2 separate regions of the Homo sapiens genome follow, and region 2 is linked to region 1. Evidence: fine-mapped expression QTL. Tissue or cell type: substantia nigra. Region 1 holds a variant in brackets; the other region holds the start of a gene. All regions are shown on one strand. Distances are from middle to middle.

Evidence for each region. PIP is the estimated chance that this variant, and not a neighbour inherited with it, causes the effect.
Region 2: SPIRE2 starts here. The variant in region 1 is fine-mapped to the expression of SPIRE2 in substantia nigra (GTEx, PIP 0.97).

What each region holds. Positions count from the first base shown.
Region 1 is chr16:88,884,707-88,892,706 of GRCh38, forward strand. CBFA2T3 (CBFA2/RUNX1 partner transcriptional co-repressor 3) reads right to left here. Exons shown (of 12, transcript NM_005187.6): 4 at 7,538-7,779; 5 at 7,176-7,265; 6 at 1,255-1,436; 7 at 340-563. It overlaps LOC101927793 (a long non-coding RNA gene), which reads left to right. Exons shown (of 3, transcript NR_135194.1): 2 at 1-138; 3 at 1,036-2,430. Among named protein-coding and RNA genes, the nearest start is that of PABPN1L, 22 kb to the left of the region's middle. RefSeq lists an enhancer at 7,509-8,000. The variant G/T (reference allele first, on the strand shown) is at 4,723.
Region 2 is chr16:89,823,530-89,831,661 of GRCh38, forward strand. SPIRE2 (spire type actin nucleation factor 2) reads left to right here and starts at 4,946. Exons shown (of 15, transcript NM_032451.2): 1 at 4,946-5,265. The coding sequence starts at 5,022. RefSeq lists a silencer at 5,000-5,089.

The DNA.
Region 1 (8,000 bases):
GGCCCAGGTGACAGAGGAGGAAACTGAGAAGCAGAGAGCCACGTGACTCACCTGTGGGTGGACTGTGGGAATCGCCAAGCTCGGATGAGAACCACGTGGGCAGTTCCAGGCCCGAGGCCGCCCACCCCGGGGGGAGAGGTGGGTTCAGGGCCCAGGACAGGCCCCTCTGCAGCCACCGCTCTGCTCCAGGGGGAATGCCAGGCAGGGGGAAGGGGTCTCCCGAGCTCAGGTGCACACAGCTGCCCGTGGTGCCCTGTGCCCACATGCTCAGGTGTACATGTGGGCGCATGTGTGCTCCTGTAACACGCGTCCACGCTCCCGCCCCACCGGGCTGCTCACCAAGCGGCCGATGGCGCTCTCGTAGCTCCCGGGGGTCTGGGTGGCGGTAGGCATCTCGGAAGTGGTGGGCCATGGCTATGTCCTCCAGGCGGTAGTGCGGCGGCGGTGTGGGCTGCGGTGGCCCGTTGCTGGGGCTGTAGCGCTGGGCAGGGTTCAGGGTGCATGGCCGTTTGCTGAGGTGCTCGGGGTGCAGCGGGTCGCGGTCTGACCCGTTCTCTTTGGTCCTAGCCCCAAGAGCAGGTGGGGCGAGGGCAGTGGACATAGGATGAACCGGGGACAGAGGTGCAGGTGGGGTGAGAGGCAGACAGGCAAGGGCAGAGAGAAAGAGGACACGTAAGGGCGAGACAGAAACACGGAGCAAAACACCAGCCCCGGGAAGCCCAGCCCGGCGCCCCCACTCTCTGCCCCTCTGCCGGGGCCCATGCCAGCCTCAACCCCTGCTCCAGCTGCATGGCATCCTGGGGCCTGGTGGTCAAAGAGCCGGACTCGCTGCTCTGGGAACGAGGAGAGGGATACACCAGGCTTCCGTAACTGGAGACCACCTGCCCCTTGGGCAGCAGCAGCACAAGAGCGTCTGGGGCAGCAGAGGGGGCCCAGCCCAGGCACCTGGGGACCATGGACCCCGGACGCTCGGAGTCCATGCCCGGCACACAGGGGAGAGCCGTCCTCCCACCAGCCTCCTCCCTGTCCTCCTAGGCTCCCCGGAGCATCTGAGTCTGCAGCCCACTGGGGTGTCCGCCCGTGCAGCCACCAAGCCTGCTGGCCCTAGTACACCTCGCCACGCTCCCTCAGCCCGAGAGAGCCGGCCGGGCTGGCTGCAGCCCCAGAGGAGGTTCCCTCTCTTACCCAGAGGGGAGCAGGGTGAGCCGCGTGTCCACGGCACCCCCAGCCCAGATCCCCGGAGCCCACAGGTACCTGTCGGGCGTCCTCCTCTTGCCGTTCTCGTTGACTTCCAGTAGCAGCTCTGAGGAGTCGATGGGGGAGGAGGCGCTGGCGTCCAGCAGGAGCTGCTCATGCTGGGCCAAGTACTGGGCGGGCGTCTGCTTGGCCAGGCGTGCACAGTGCAGGAGCTCCCGCTGCAGCAAGGGCAGGTTTGCCTGTGGGGTGGGGAAGGAGGGCCTGGGTAGCATGCAGGGGTGCACAGCCCTGCTCAGGTCCGAGCAGAGGGGGCCTGGGCTGGGTGGCCGAAAGCTCAACTTGACCTCGGGCCTCAAAGGTCAAGGTGCTCGACCTCTCTGGGCCTCAAGTTCCTTCCTAGCAGTGCCATGGGAGGGTGGCGTGGGAGGGTGGGCACAGAGCTTCGCAGGAGTGCCTCACCTGGGCCACACGGCGATGTGGGGCATGTGGGACTTGAGCCCAGATCCTGGACTCCCAGGGTGGGGCTTTCCCACCGCACCCAGCTCCCTCCCATGGCGTGGTCTGGAGAAGGCGAGAGGACGAAGGGGCAGCAGATCATGGTTGGTCTTCCCGCCTGCACCCGCCCTGCCCAGCAGGCACCACATGACCCAACACAGCTGGGGAAATGCAGGCTCAGAGAGGGGGAGGCAGCCCTGGGCCTACAGGCGGCTCACACGAGGGAGCTGGGAGTGAAACCCAGCTGGGATTGCCTGCAGTGTGTCTGCTCCAGCCCTGATGGGAAGCCCTGAGGTTCAGCTTCCCCTTCCCTTCCCGCTGGTTTCCAGCCTTGGCCTTGATGGAGCGTGGACCTAGGACGTGGACACCCACGTTCTGTGGCTGCTCAAGTGATCCTCCAGCCTTGGTGAGGACGGCCTCAAGACCCACGTGTGCGGGTAAAGACTCCGCAGCATGCGGCCGAAGGACGGCCCGGTGTACGGGATCCGTATGCAGACCCTGCCTTTGACGCCTGTGTGTACCCGCGGCGCCCGCCGCCTCGTCCTTGGCTCCAGGCTGGCACTGCTGGGCCGCAAGCCGGGCTCCTCGGGTGCCTTCCCCAAAGTCTTCCCAGAGCTGCCGCGGGAGGGCGGACAGGCGTGCTGGACCCTGAGCATGCTGGACCAGGGCCCAGCAGCAGGCCACTTGGGAGAGCCAGCGGTTCTAAGCATTTGTAAATAAATCCAATTCCCCAACTTTCTCATGCGTTTCAAAGCTGCCACGCCGCCTTCTCCTGCCAGCGCCTCCCCATTCCCCACGAGTGCATCCACCAGGCCCTCGAGCAGTGCCGGCTGCCGGCCTGTTTTTCTCTTTGGATGGCTGAACAGGGGCCAACCGGCCATCTGTTGAGGACATCAGGAGCATGAGCTGGGAAACGAGGTCCCGGGAGGTCTGAGGAGCCAAACATCCTCCCTCCCTCATCAGCCCCTCCCCAGGGGCCTCCTCTTGGTCAGTTCGGGAACCGGCTGGTCGCTGTTAGGGCGGGGAGAACATCTGGATCCCTGGCTGGCTGGGGCCAGCTGAGGCCAGCTGGGAGCCGGGGCGGTGGGTGGGGCTGCATCCCCCAGCTTCTGGAAGGCCTGACCCTTGGGCTGCGTGTGGGGCAGGCTCAGGAAAGGGTGCAGAGAACCCAGGACTGGGCAGCATCAGCGTAGGGGCCGGATGCACAGCAGCCCTCGGCAAGCAGGGAATGTTTCCTCAAGGCCTGCGGAATGGGGTGGGGACTGTGGGAACCTCCGGCAGTGCCTCCTTCAAGGCAGTGTCCCCACTCTGTCCCCAGGAGCCCAGGGCACCCGGGGAGGTGTCACCACTAAAATGCTACACACACTGAGCTGGTCAAAATGCCCCAACTCCACCACTGAACGGAAGTTCTGCCTGCAGAACTTCTGAAGCTGCCCTCTGCACAGATGGGCGCTCAGGCTGGGGAACTGGTGTTTGCAATGACGGCGGCGGTGGCTGAGGCACTAGTTGAGCTACAAGGGCTTTCGCGGACTCCGCTGCTCTGCCAAGCACCCAGCTAAAGCCTCCCTGACCGTGGGCTCTGCCATAGAGGGGCTGTGGCCTTGGGCTGGTCATTTAACCTCTCTGACCCTTGCTGTATCTGCAAACTAGCGCTGTGGAGCCTCTGGCCGAGACAGACTCCGGGGAGCTCCGGGTGAATCAGCTCAGTCCTTTCCCACCACCCCGTGAGGGAGATTCACCACCCCAACTACGAGAGAGAGGGCCCAAGCCAGGGCTGGGGTTCCAGCCAAGCAGGCCCCCACTCTCTCCGGCCCCTCAGCCACGATTCCTGCCGTTTCTAGGATGATGTCTTCAAGGACTGCGTGAGAGTACCCCAGACTGGGCCTGGCGGGCTGTGGATGTCTTGGGAAGGTGCTACCCCTCCCCCAGCCCAGGCCACAGTCAGGAACACCGAGGCCCAAGGGGACTGGCTGGGGGTCACTCCCACTCGGCACCTCCTGTCTGGCCTGGGAAGGTCGGACTCCCCCACTGCACTCTGTGTCTGAAGGGGCTGCGGCCCTGCAGGGGTGTGGGTGGGGTTGGGGGGGTGCGGGTGGGGTTGGGGAGGGGTGGGGTGGGGGAAGGGTGTGGGTGGGGGAGGGGTGGGGTGGGGGTGGGGTAGGGGTGGGGTGGGGTGGGAGGGGGTGGGGTGGGGTGGGGTGGGTGGGAGGGGTGGGGTGGGGGCTGCTCCCTGGGTGGGACAGTGACAGTAGGGCCAGGGTTCTGGCTTGTATCTGAGCCACAAGACCTGGAAGCAGGACTGGCCGCAAGATCTTTATTTTTTATTTTTGAATCCTCCTGGCCTCCCCCTAGAAGCGCCATGTCAGAGAGGTGAACAGACTTCATGTCCCACTGGCCCCGGGCCCCGGGTGGGGGCACGAGGTGGGCTGGCCCTGAGCTCCAGCTACCCCACACAGGCCGTGGGATCCCCTGTGTACCAAGGGGAGACTGAGGTGGACACGGCCCTCACGAGAGCCGGGCCGCGGGCGGCACCTGCTGGGGCGTGGCCGGGGGACACCAGGGCCTGACCAGACGTCATGGACAGGGGCCGTAGGCCTGGTGGGGGCAAGGGTGGGGATGCTGCGGCGTTTCTCTGCCTGACCCTGATCCTCAGTTAAGCAAGGGTGGCTGAGGCTGGGGGCATCTGTTGGTAATAAGCAGGCGCACTGTGTCCCCAAAGACTGGGAGGGGTGGAGTCCGCAGCAAGTTAAAAGAAGGGAAGGGAAGGGCCGCTAACGAACTGCAAACGACGCCAGATGGGCCCAGGCTCCTGCCACTCCAGAAGCTTCTCTTTTGTCACCATCTGGGAGCATGAGCACAGCAGGGCGTGGGAGGGGGCGGAGGAAGGCGGGAGGAGGGATGGAGCGATAGAGGAGGGAGGGCAGGAGGAAAGGAGGGGGTGGTGGGAGGGAGGGAGGACTGGGGCAGCGGAGGGAGGGAGGGCAGGAAAAAGCAGAGGAGGCAGGGGCGGGAGGGAGGGAGCGAGGGTGG[G/T]AACAGAGGTGGGTGTGATGTGGGGTCCCCTTGGGGAGGGACTGAGGGGAATGAGGGTCTGACCCTGTAAGTGCCCTGGGACGACCAGGGCGTTTGGAATTTGACAGACCTAGGTTTGAGCCCTGGCGCCCTCTCTCCACTACCTGGGGGGAACCCAGAGCCTCAGTTTCCCCACCTGTTAATCAGGAACATGGCAGTGCCTACACTACACCTTGACAGAGGCCAACAGGTCTGTGAGAGACCTTCCTGAAGCACTCCTCCTCCTCCAGGGACGACACCCCGCGATTCCTCCTCCTCCAGGGACACTTCAAATCCCTGGACGACGCCCCGCGATTCCTCCTCCTCCAGGGACGACGCCACGCGATTCCTCCTCCTCCAGGGACACTTCAAATCCCTGGACGATGCCCCGCGATTCCTCCTCCTCCAGGGACACTTCAAATCCCTGGACGACGCCCCGCGATTCCTCCTCCTTCAGGGACGACGCCCCGCGATTCCTCCTCCTCCAGGGACGACGCCGTGCGATTCCTCCTCCTCCAGGGACGACGCCCCGTGATTCCTCCTCCTCCAGGGGACGTTTCAAATCCCTGGACGATGCCCCGCGATTCCTCCTCCTCCAGGGGACGTTTCAAATCCCTGGACGATGCCCCGCGATTCCTCCTCCTCCAGGGGACGTTTCAAATCCCTGGACGATGCCCCGCGTGAATCTAGAACATGCCTCACCTCCCTGTAGTCCCCGCTACCTGGGAGGCTGAGGTGGAAGATTCCCCTGAGCCCGGGAGTGAGGCCCCGTTCTTTCCGCGTGTCCCTCCACGCTGTCTCCTCAACAGCCTGAGGATGATTCCATTTTGCAGATACAGAAACCGAAGCACAGAGGAACTGGCCTCACCCAGGGGCCAACAGCTGCTAAGTGGCAGGCTCGGGCTCAAGCCAGGGAGCATCTGGTCTGGTCTGTCCTCTGGACCCCCGAGGGGAGGCCTGGCCCAGCAGAGATGGAGCCCACAGCAGTACGGGCAGTGCTCAGGCTGGGCCCGAAGGTGTGGCCAGGCTGGCAGCTCCCAACTAAGCTCCACGGAACCCTGACCCCAACACGTGCTCGGCAGAGAAGGTCACATGGTCAGACACATTTGGGGAACCTTTCCTCAGCTCCTGCTAGAGATGTGCAGCCGTCTTGGGGAAATGGAGACCCGCAGAGATGGCAGTCTGACTCCACGGCACTCCCGTGCCCGTCCCGTCTGTGTGTGCGTGGGAATCACTCTCCCATGGGAATCACTGGCTTCATTCATTCATTCATTCATTCATTCGTTCAGAGACAGGGTGTTGCTCTGTCGCCCAGGCTGGAGTGCAGTGGCGTGATCACAGCTCACTGCAGTCTCGACCTCCTGGATTCAAGCAATCCTCCCACCTCAGCCTCCCGGGTAGCTGGGATCATAGGTGCATACAACGCTCAGCTAATTTTTATATTTTTTGTAGAGATGGGGTCTAGCTGTGTTGCCCAGGCTGGTCTTGAACTCCTGGCCTCAAGCAATCCCCGTTCCTCAGACTGGCATCTTTAAAAATGCAGGCTCTGATTCAGCAGGTTTGGGCCGGGCCGAGAGCCTGCAAAGCTGACAAGCCCCGCGTGCTGCCACCCTGGTCCACGGTTGATCTGGGTGTGACCATCTGACCTGCTTTCACCTGACACCTCTTCATCCATCGGCCTGCGCAGCCACAGAAGCCCCTTCCCGCCTGTCTACCGCCCTCACCTCCCGCCCTCACCTCTGCTCTCTCCACCCCACGTATTCTGTTCCAGTCACACTGACCCCTCTGCTGTTCCTCAAGCACAGCGGGCGCCCCATACCTCAGGGCCTCTGCACGTGCAGTTACTGCTGTCTGGAAAACCCTGCGCTGGCTCTGCACCTAGCTCCGCCCTCATCCTCAGCCCTCACCAACACGCCTCCAAGCAAAGGACTTTCGGAATACTTCTCCACCACGTGCAGCTGCAGATTTGAGAGTGGCTGTGGACCGAACGCCTTCCCACCCCAGGGTGCTGGCTCCAGGAGGGACCTGCTGCATGTCCTGGGCCCTATCCCCGAGCCTTGCCCCCACACTGGCACGTCGTCAGTGCTCAAAAATCACCCGTGGAGTGAGCGAGCACATTCGGCCAACGGCAACCAGAGGCGAACCGGACAGCTCTGTCCTGTGCTGGATTTAAGGGCTGATAATCATCCGGTCTGGCAACTAATTTTCAGGCCTTAACTAGTAGGAGTCAACCCTGACTAGTCAGCAGTGCTCCCCTAGGGTACCACAGGGTCCCAGGTTGGCCAAGATCGATGCCTCACACCTCTTCATCCACCTGCCTATCTGGCCACTTAAGCCCCTTCCCGCCTGTCCACCGCTGTCCACGCTGGCAAGGAGTGGGATTAAGGGGCCTTCTAGGGAGGCTCCCGCAGCACGGGGGACGGGTTTCGCATTACCTTCAGGAAGGGAATGACAAACGGCCGCAGAGGGAAGTTGGTGGCCTCCTGAAGCTTGGAATGAAACTCCTCGATCGTCAATGTCGAGTTCTGCAGGGGAGAAAACCCACCTCACATCAGCACCGCTCGGCATGTGAGCCAGCGCCGACCCACCCATGCCTGAGGAGGAGGCTTCCGTGTTGGAGGCAGGCAGGCAGCCCAGGAGCTGGGCACGGCCTGAGAGGGTGCAGGTGGCATCGTGGGAGCGGGTCCACGCCCGGTTGTCAGCGTGGAGCCCATGTAAGGAGTGGCCGTGGCTGCAACCTCATTAAACGGAGGGAATATGCATGTCCCAAGGCCCCGGCTGTCCCTGCCCAACTCACCACCAGGCCCAGCACCAGTGTGCGCACGCGCTCCCCAATCTCTGGGGAGATGTCGCTGCCAAACTGCTGCAGTGTGGTGAGGAAGCGCTTGAGCTTGCTGAGCTGCCGGGCCCCGCAGGCTGGGGGCAGGTGCTGTGTGGACAAGGAGGCTGTGGACGAGGTGGCCGGGCCATTGCTGAAGCCGTTGGGTGTGCACGGTGCACCATTGATGGCTGTTGGTGAGTGGCTGCTGCCGTTCATCACTGCAGGAGGGAAGCGGACATGAGGACACAAAGGTGATGGTGACAACACAACCCAGACGGCGGCGACAGTGAGGGAAGCAGCGACTAAGGTGACAATGTCAAAAGTGACGGCAACAATGATGAGACACAAGGACAGTAGCGCTGAGGATGACAGCAGGAGCCCTGGGCCCGCCCAGGGCAGCTGAGCTGGCCCTTAGCATGCTGACCATCTGTCCTTCCGG
Region 2 (8,132 bases), 940 kb after region 1:
AAATGTCTCTAGTTTGTCCCCAAGCGGAGCAGCCCAGTTACTGATAATTTCCCTCTCCCAGGATTTCCTAATCTACTGGAAATGAAGGACAAGGAGCATGTTTTTAGATGCAGGCAATCCATAACTGTAGAAATGGCCTTGATCTAAAGCAAGCTTGTCCAACCCGCGGCCTGTGGGCTGCATGCGGCCCAGGAAAGCTTTGAATGCAGCCCAACACAAATTCTTAAACTTTCTTAAAACATTGTGAGATTTATGCACAGAGCTATTGTTAGTGTATTTTACGTGTGGCTCAAGACAATTCGTCTTCCAGTGTGGTCCAGGGAAGCCAAAAGATTGGACACCCCTGCTCTAAAGCTTTCCAAGCTGACTTAATGACTGACCTACATCAATCTCTACAGTGCTTCTCGTTGAGTCCCTTTTTCTGTTTGTTTGTTTTTTGAGACAGAGTCTCACTGTGTCACCAGGCTGGAGTGCAGTGGTGTGATCTCGGCTCACTGCAACCTCCGCCTCCTGGATTCAGGCGATTGTCCTGCCTCACCCTCCTGAGTAGCTGGGACTACAGGCATGTGCCACCATGCCCAGCTAATTTTTGTATTTTTATTTTTATTTTTTATTTATTTATTTTTTGAGACAGAGTCTCGCTCTGTCGCCCAGGCTGCAATGCAGTGGCGCAATCTTGGCTCACTGCAAGCTCCACCTCCCAGGTTCACGGCATTCTCCTGCCTCAGCCTCCCGAGTAGCTGGGACTACAGGCACCCCCCCACCACGCCCGGCTAATTTTTTTGTATTTTTAGTAGAGACAGGGTTTCACCGTGCTAGCCAGGATGGTCTCGATCTCCTGACCTCGTGATCTGCCCGCCTCAGCCTCCCAAAGTGCTGGGATTACAGGCGTGAGCCACTGTGCCTGGCCTTTTGTATTTTTAGTAGAGATGGGGTTTCACCGTGTTGGCCAGGATGGCCTTGATCTCCTGACCTTGTGATCTGCCTGCCTCGGCCTCCCAAAGTGCTGGGATTACAGGTGTGAGCCACCATGCCCGGCCATGTTTTATTTCTTTTTATTTTTTTTGAGATGGAGTCTTGCTCTGTTTCCCAGGCTGGAGTGCAGTGGTGCGATCTCGGCTCACTGCGACCTCCGCCTCCTGGGTTCAAGCAATTCTTCTGCCTCAGCCTCCCGAGTAGCTGGGATTATAGGCATGTGCCACCACGCCCTGCTAATTTTTTTTTTTTTAATTATTTTTCTAGTAGAGATGGGGTTTCACCATATTGGCCAGGCTGGTCTGGAACTCCTGACCTCGTGATCTGCCCCCTTGGCCTCCCAAAGTGCTGGGATTACAGGCTTGAGCCACCGTGCCCAGCCCTAACTTTTAAAATTTTTTACTAAAATCTCAGTGTTCTAAGTCCTGCTGGTGAGTCCATAGGGATCCCAGGTAGGATGGTGGATGCCAGTTCAGAGAGGGTCACTGTACCCCACTCACGTGACCTCAAGGGTCACTGTTCAGCCAGGTGAGTCAGCACTAGGTCCTTGCCAGGATGCAGCAGTGGCTGGAGGACTGAGCTCACAAATTACACCCTAAAACCTTGTGGTCGGTAAGGGACACGTGAGGCCCTTTGAGGAAGAGAGAAGGTCCCCTTGTGCCCCAGCCAGCTTCCCATTAGGGTAATTACCATCTTCTGCTCAAATGTCCCCGGCCAGTGCTGCACTGTGGCAGTGATGAGGCTGCACGTCCAAAGAGTGCTCTGGGGTGGTGGCCAGTCGTGGTGAGAGCAATGTCCCCCACCTTGACTTCTGGCAAGAAGCAGTGAGACCTACTCAGTGGGGTGTTGCAAATGGAAGTCTTTTTTTTTTTCTTTTTTTATTTTTGAGATGGAGTCTCGCTCTGTCGCCCAGGCTGGAGTGCAGTGGCGCGATCTCGGCTCACTGCAAGCTCCGCCTCCTGGGTTCACGCCATTCTCCTGCTTTAGCCTCCCCAGTATCTGGAACTACAGGCACCCGACACCACTCCTGGCTAATTTTTTGTGTTTTTTAGTAGAGACGGGTTTCACCATGTTAGCCAGGATAGTCTCAATCTCCTGACCTCTTGATCCATCCGCCTCGGCCTCCCAAAGTGCTGGGATTACAGGAGTGAGCCACCGCGCTCGGCCACAAATGGAAGTCTTTATCCCCGTGCATTCTGAAGGGAGAAACCACCCTGTGTGTGGGACCAAGGATCAGCCTCAGACATCAGCAGAGAACAATTCCCCATCATCACACACCTGGCAGTGTGTGGGCCAGGGACTTTGGTTACCACGAATGTAGAGCGTGCTGCTCCTGTGGAATAAGATGCCTCATGGAAGGTTTTCTGCTGTTGCTCTTCTAAGCCAGAACTTGAAATTCCTAACTTACCCATCGTTGGTACCCATGCTGCGGGTGGCAGGGACAAATCAGGAGGGGAGATCTGCTTGAGTGCCAGGTTTGTGGTACATGGTATTCAGGGCATGGCACCCCATCCCCACCCCGCTCATCTCCAATTTTCCTTCTGCAAAACCCCACTGCGCCTATTAGTCTTTATGCATCTATTTACTAGAGACAGGGTCTCACCGTCACCCAGGCTGGAGTGCAGTGGTGCAATCACAGCGCACTGCAACCTCGACCTCCCAGGCTCAAGTGGTCCTCCTGCCTTACCCTCCCAAGTAGCTGGGACCACCGGCACACACCTCCACACCTGGCTAATGTTTTTAAAGTTTTGTAGCGATAGGGTCTCATGTTGCCCTGGCAGGTCTCGAACTCCTGGGTTCAAGCCATCGGGTTGCCTCGGCCTCCCAAAGTGCTGGGATTACAGGCATGAGCCACCGTGCCCAGCCCACTCCTGTTACTTTTGGTTGTGTTTTAGCTTGGGGAACCAACAAAAGATGTGAATGTTGCCCCGCTGTTGATTATAAAAACTTTAGGCATGGCTGGGCACAGTGGCTCATGCCTGTAATCCCAGCACTTTGAGAGGCCGAGGCGGGCGGATCATGAGGTCAGGAGATTGAGACCATCCTAGCTAATACAGTGAAACCCCGTCTCTACTAAAAAAATACAAAAAATTAGCTGGGCGTGGTGGCAGGCGCCTGTAGTCTCAGCTACTCAGGAGGCTGAGGCAGGAGAATGGCGTAAACCTGGGAGGGGAGCTTGCAGTGAGCAGAGATCGCGTCACTGCACTCTAGCCTGGGCAACAGAGCGCGACTCTGCCTCAAAACAAACAAACAAACAAACTTTAGGCACAATTCGTCATCATCAGCCTCCTTTCTGCTTACAGATGAAAAGTCCAGCTGGACGGGACGACATGGCTCATGCCTGCAACCCCAGCACCCTGGGAGGCTGAGGCAGGGGGATCACCTGAGGTCAGGATTTCGAGACCGGCCTGGCCGACATGGCGAAACCACCCAAAAAATTACCCGGGTGTGGTGGTGGGCGCCTGTAGTTCCAGCTACTTTGAGGCTGAGGCAGGAGAAACGCTTGAATCTGGGAGGTAGAGGTTGCAGTGAGCCAAGGTTGCGCCACTGCACTCCAGCCTGGGCGATAAGAGCAAAACTCCTTCTCAAAAAAAAAAAAAAGAAAGGGAAAGAAAAGAAAAGTCCAGCTGGACTGGGCGCGGTTGCTCACGCTTGTAATCCCAGTACTTTGGGAGACCAAGGTGGCCTGACTGCTTGAGCCCAGGAATTCAAGACCAGCCTGGGCAACATGGTGAGATCCCATCTCCACAAAAAATAAAAACAATCAGCTGGGCGTGGTGGTTCATGCCTTTAGTCCCATCTACTCAGGAAGCTGACGTGGGAGGATCACTTGACCCCAGGAATTTGAGGTTATAGTGAGCTACGATTGTACCATTGCACTTCAGCCTGGGTGAGACCTTGTCTCTAAAAAAAAAAAAAGAAAAAAAAATCATTGTGGAACTTCTTTTCTGGGATGGGATCTCACTGTGTTGTCCAGGCAGGTCCAGAACTCCTGGGAGACCAGCGAACTTTAAGTGCCCCAAGTTTCACCTCGGACCTGCATCAGAATCTCCAGCCCTGGAGCCCAGGAATCTGCATTTCTTGCCCCCGGGTGGTACTGGCAGCACCCAGGCTTGGGACCGTTTATGCCCCAACTGCATTTTCTTGCCCACTTATTCAGATCTGGCACAACTATGAAGAGGCCTCGGGATGAGCCCCAGCCGAGTTCCCCTTGCGTCCCTCAGGCAAACACCCAGTGTCCAGGAGTGACCCGGCCTGAAGACACAAACACGCCCCAAATGCGATGCACGCCATCACTGGCCAACCGTGTGTGTTTATTTTTCACGGACACCCTGGAGACGTCACTGCAGGCACATTCCCTGCTAGGCAGAGGCATTTATTAAGGGCTTCATACCCGAAGGCCGGATGCGGGGAGTCGCCCTCACCCCAGCCACCCTGCGACAACCCCTGGAGGTCACCTTGCCCGGGGCTCGGGGAGGCCACTGCGGGCTTTGTCTGCTCAGCTCCTCCCGGCTCCCTCCCGCGTTCCCAGCGGCAAACCTCCCAGGCCCCCCGCGGTCACCGCAGTGTCCCGGGCTGGATGCCGGCCCGGGCTTTTGTGGGCATCGGCCGTCTGGGTCTGCGGGGGAGCGCCGGGGGTGTCACCGCGTGTCCGAGCGCGCGGGCCCTGGCCCATGTCTGCAGCCCCCAACCCTCCCCCCGGTCCTGCCCAGCACCCCGGAGGGGTTCGCACCCCGGCCTCGGCCCCGCGCCCCCGCGTCCCCAGCCCTGAGCCCCAGCCCCTCCGCACCTACCCGCGCCCCGCCCTGCCCCTCACCCGTCCCCCTCCGGGCCTCTCCCCGCGCGCCCTCCACTCCCCGCCCCGCCCCGCGTCCCTCCCCCTCCGCGCCCCGCCCCCCGCGCCCTCCGCGCCCCGCCCCCGTCGCCGCCCCGCCCCCAACCTGAGGCGCTCGCGCGGGGCGGGGCGGCCAGGCTGACCCTGCGCGGCGGAAGGCGCGGCTGCATGGACGCGGGTCCGGCGCGCGGGAGGCGATGACGGCCCCGCCATGGCCCGGGCGGGCAGCTGCGGCGGCGCCGCGGCGGGCGCAGGGCGGCCGGAGCCCTGGGAGCTGTCCCTGGAGGAGGTGCTGAAGGCCTACGAGCAGCCGCTCAACGAGGAGCAGGCGTGGGCCGTGTGCTTCCAGGGCTGCCGCGGGCTGCGGGGCTCGCCGGGCCGGCGCCTGCGGGATACCGGGGACCTCCTGCTGCGCGGGGACGGCTCGGTCGGGGCGCGGGAGCCCGAGGCCGCGGGTGAGGCCGGGGGCGGGGCAGCCGGCGGGGACCGCGGTCTGGGGCGTCCGTCCCGCCCCCTGGGTGGGGGTGGTCCCGGCGGAGAGGCTGCGACCGGTTCTGGAGCGGGAGATCCCCTTCTCTGCGGGACCCGGAGCTCCCTCCCTCCCACTCTCCGTCCCTCTTTCCCTCTCTCTTTCCTCCCTCCTTCTCTCCCTCCTTCCTCTCCCTCCCCGGCCCTGGACGTTCCCCTCCCGGACCCCCCCACCTGACGCCTCTCCCAGCGCGGAGCGGGCTGCTCCCCAGTGGCCTGGCTTCCTCCGGGAGAGGGACTTGGGCCGGTGGCTCAGGGAGCACGGAGCTGGCCTTTGCTGGGGCGACTCCTCCCCTGCCTTCAGCAGGAAAGGAGACAGAAGCGTCCCCTTGGGGCATTTTCTCCTGGGTGGAAGGTGGGGGGCTGCGCCTCACTTGGCGTCTGAACTGACACTAAATTCCTGGGTTTAACTGGGAGAGGAAGGGGTGTGTAAAGTTGGGGGGACAACCTGCTTGGTGTTTCTATTCTTAACCATCAACCAGAACCAACAATTAAGCCCTAGAAAGATACTTGAAGTTAGTGAGAATGGTGAGCTTAAGTGATTATTTACCCTTTACGAAAAAAACCGAAAGTGATTTCTTCCCTGGAGAGCTGGAGTGCTGGCTTGGAGCATGTGATATGACCCCAAAAGCTGGTACCCTGCCGGGGGGCAGAGGCAGGCTGTGTGTTTGCCGCACTCTCTCCAGGCCTGAGAGCTGTGGGTTTGCATGAGCAGGCCTATGTGGAGGACCAGGAAGGGCCAGGGCAAGGCCAGACAGAAGCAAGCTACAGAGCCACGAGGGGTGGGGGCCGTTGTGCCCCACCCAAGGGCCCTTGTTCCTTCACCAGGTCCTGCTCATCCTGGAGCCCCCCCCTCAGCTGCCTCCACACTCCTGCCATTTGCAGTATCCCACACAGGTGACAGCAAGAGCAGGCCCTGAGGTTTTACTCCCTCTGGAGAAACCTGAGGCGCAGGCTTGCGCTGGCACTCAGACAGTGGCAGCGTTCAGATTCACTGTGGCGTCCCTCAGGGCTGTGCCCACTGCCGCCCAGAGGGTGGGGTGAGACGGCAGGTGCATGGGGCCCAGGAGGCTGCATGCTCACAGAGCCTCTGTGAAAGGGTGCCTGGACTTCACCCCATTCCTGGAGATAAGTGCAGAGCAGGAGGAGGCTGTAGGCAGCCTGGTTCGTCTGACCCTCTGACTGTAAAGATGGGGAAACCGAGGCACACAGTGGTAAGTGGTTTGCCGGGTGGTTAGAATCCAGAGCTCCTCATTTGTCCTAGCTGTGCGGGAGCCCAGCCGCCTGCTTCCTGTTGGTGCTGTGCAAGGCGTCCTCAGAGCAGTGATCTGATTCTCTCCACCTCCATCCCTGGGTGGTGTGGCCCCTTCCTGGTCCTCACAGCCCCGGCAGCAGTTCCTGGCTGGGGTTCAAAGTTCAGGTAGGGCACTGTGTTGACCTTAGGGGGTGGTACCCACCTGTGGTCCAGTTCATTTTTTATTTGATAACGATCTTTGTTTTCTGTTCATAACCCTGTCTCATGAAGGCGAATGAGTTTTATGACTTGCTCTCTCTTGAAGGTTTAAGAAAAATCTATTACCCTGAACTTTCTGTGCCATCCTTGTGGTGCTTCTGAGTCAGCTGAGACATCAGGCCAGCTGTCTCCTCAAAGGTGGCTAACCCAGCCTTTCTCTGGGACTTAAGTGATAAGTAAATACATTAAAAGATGCATACTTATTTCTCCCTGTAGATATCAATAGGAAAACATCCAATCTCACTTGTTGGCATTGTAGTCTCAGTTTTTTGCTCCAGTTGAATTTCTCAACCTGTAACCTTGGGTCTTCAGTACCCACCCTCTCACACAAACTGAATATGGGCAGTAGGTGTGTAAAACCACTTTGAAAAAAACCAACAACAAACTAGACCATACTTAGGAGGATGAATAATATTATCTTAGCACACAAGTAGTAATACTTCTCATTTCCAAGCCAAGATTAGGAAAAAAATGACTAGAAGAGACTTCCTAATCTTTACTCTGAAGACTTTGTAACTGCTTAGAATCTTTTTTTTTTTTTTTTTTTGAGAGGGAGTCTCGCTCTGTTGCCCAGGCTGGAGTGCAGCGGCACAATCTCTGCTCACTGCAAGCTCCACCTCCCGGGTTCACGCCATTCTCCTGCCTCAGCCTCCCGAGTAGCTGGGACTACAGGCGCCCGCCACCACGCCCGGCTAATTTTTTGTATTTTTAGTAGAGACGGGGTTTCACCGTGTTAGCCAGGATGGTCTCGATCTCCTGACCTCGTGATCTGCCCACCTCGGCCTTCCAAAGTGCTGGGATTACAGGCGTGAGCCACTGCGCCCAGCTGGGTGGTTTCTCAAATACATCTCAGACGTGGTGCTAATGAGGGTCTGTGTGGTCCATGTGCAAGGTGGGTGGGATGGCCCTTCCTTCCGTCACCTGCCCTCTTCACCCTGATTGGCTACTTTACACGTGACCCTATTTTTTGAATGTTTTTTCTTGTCAACTTTGGATGCTAAACTTTTTTTCTTTCTTTCTTTTTTTTTTTTTTTTATGAGACAGTCTCGCTCTGTCGCCCAGGCTGGAGTGCAGTGGCGCGTTCTCGGCTCACTGCAAGCTTCGCCTACTGGGTTCACGCCATTCTCCTGCCTCAGCGTCCCGAGTAGCTGGGACTACATGCGCCCGCCACCACGCCCGGCTAATTTTTTGTATTTTTAGTAGAGACTGGGTTTCACTGTGTTAGCCAGAATGGTCTCGATCTCCTGACCTCATGATCCGCCCACCTCGGCCTCCCAAAGT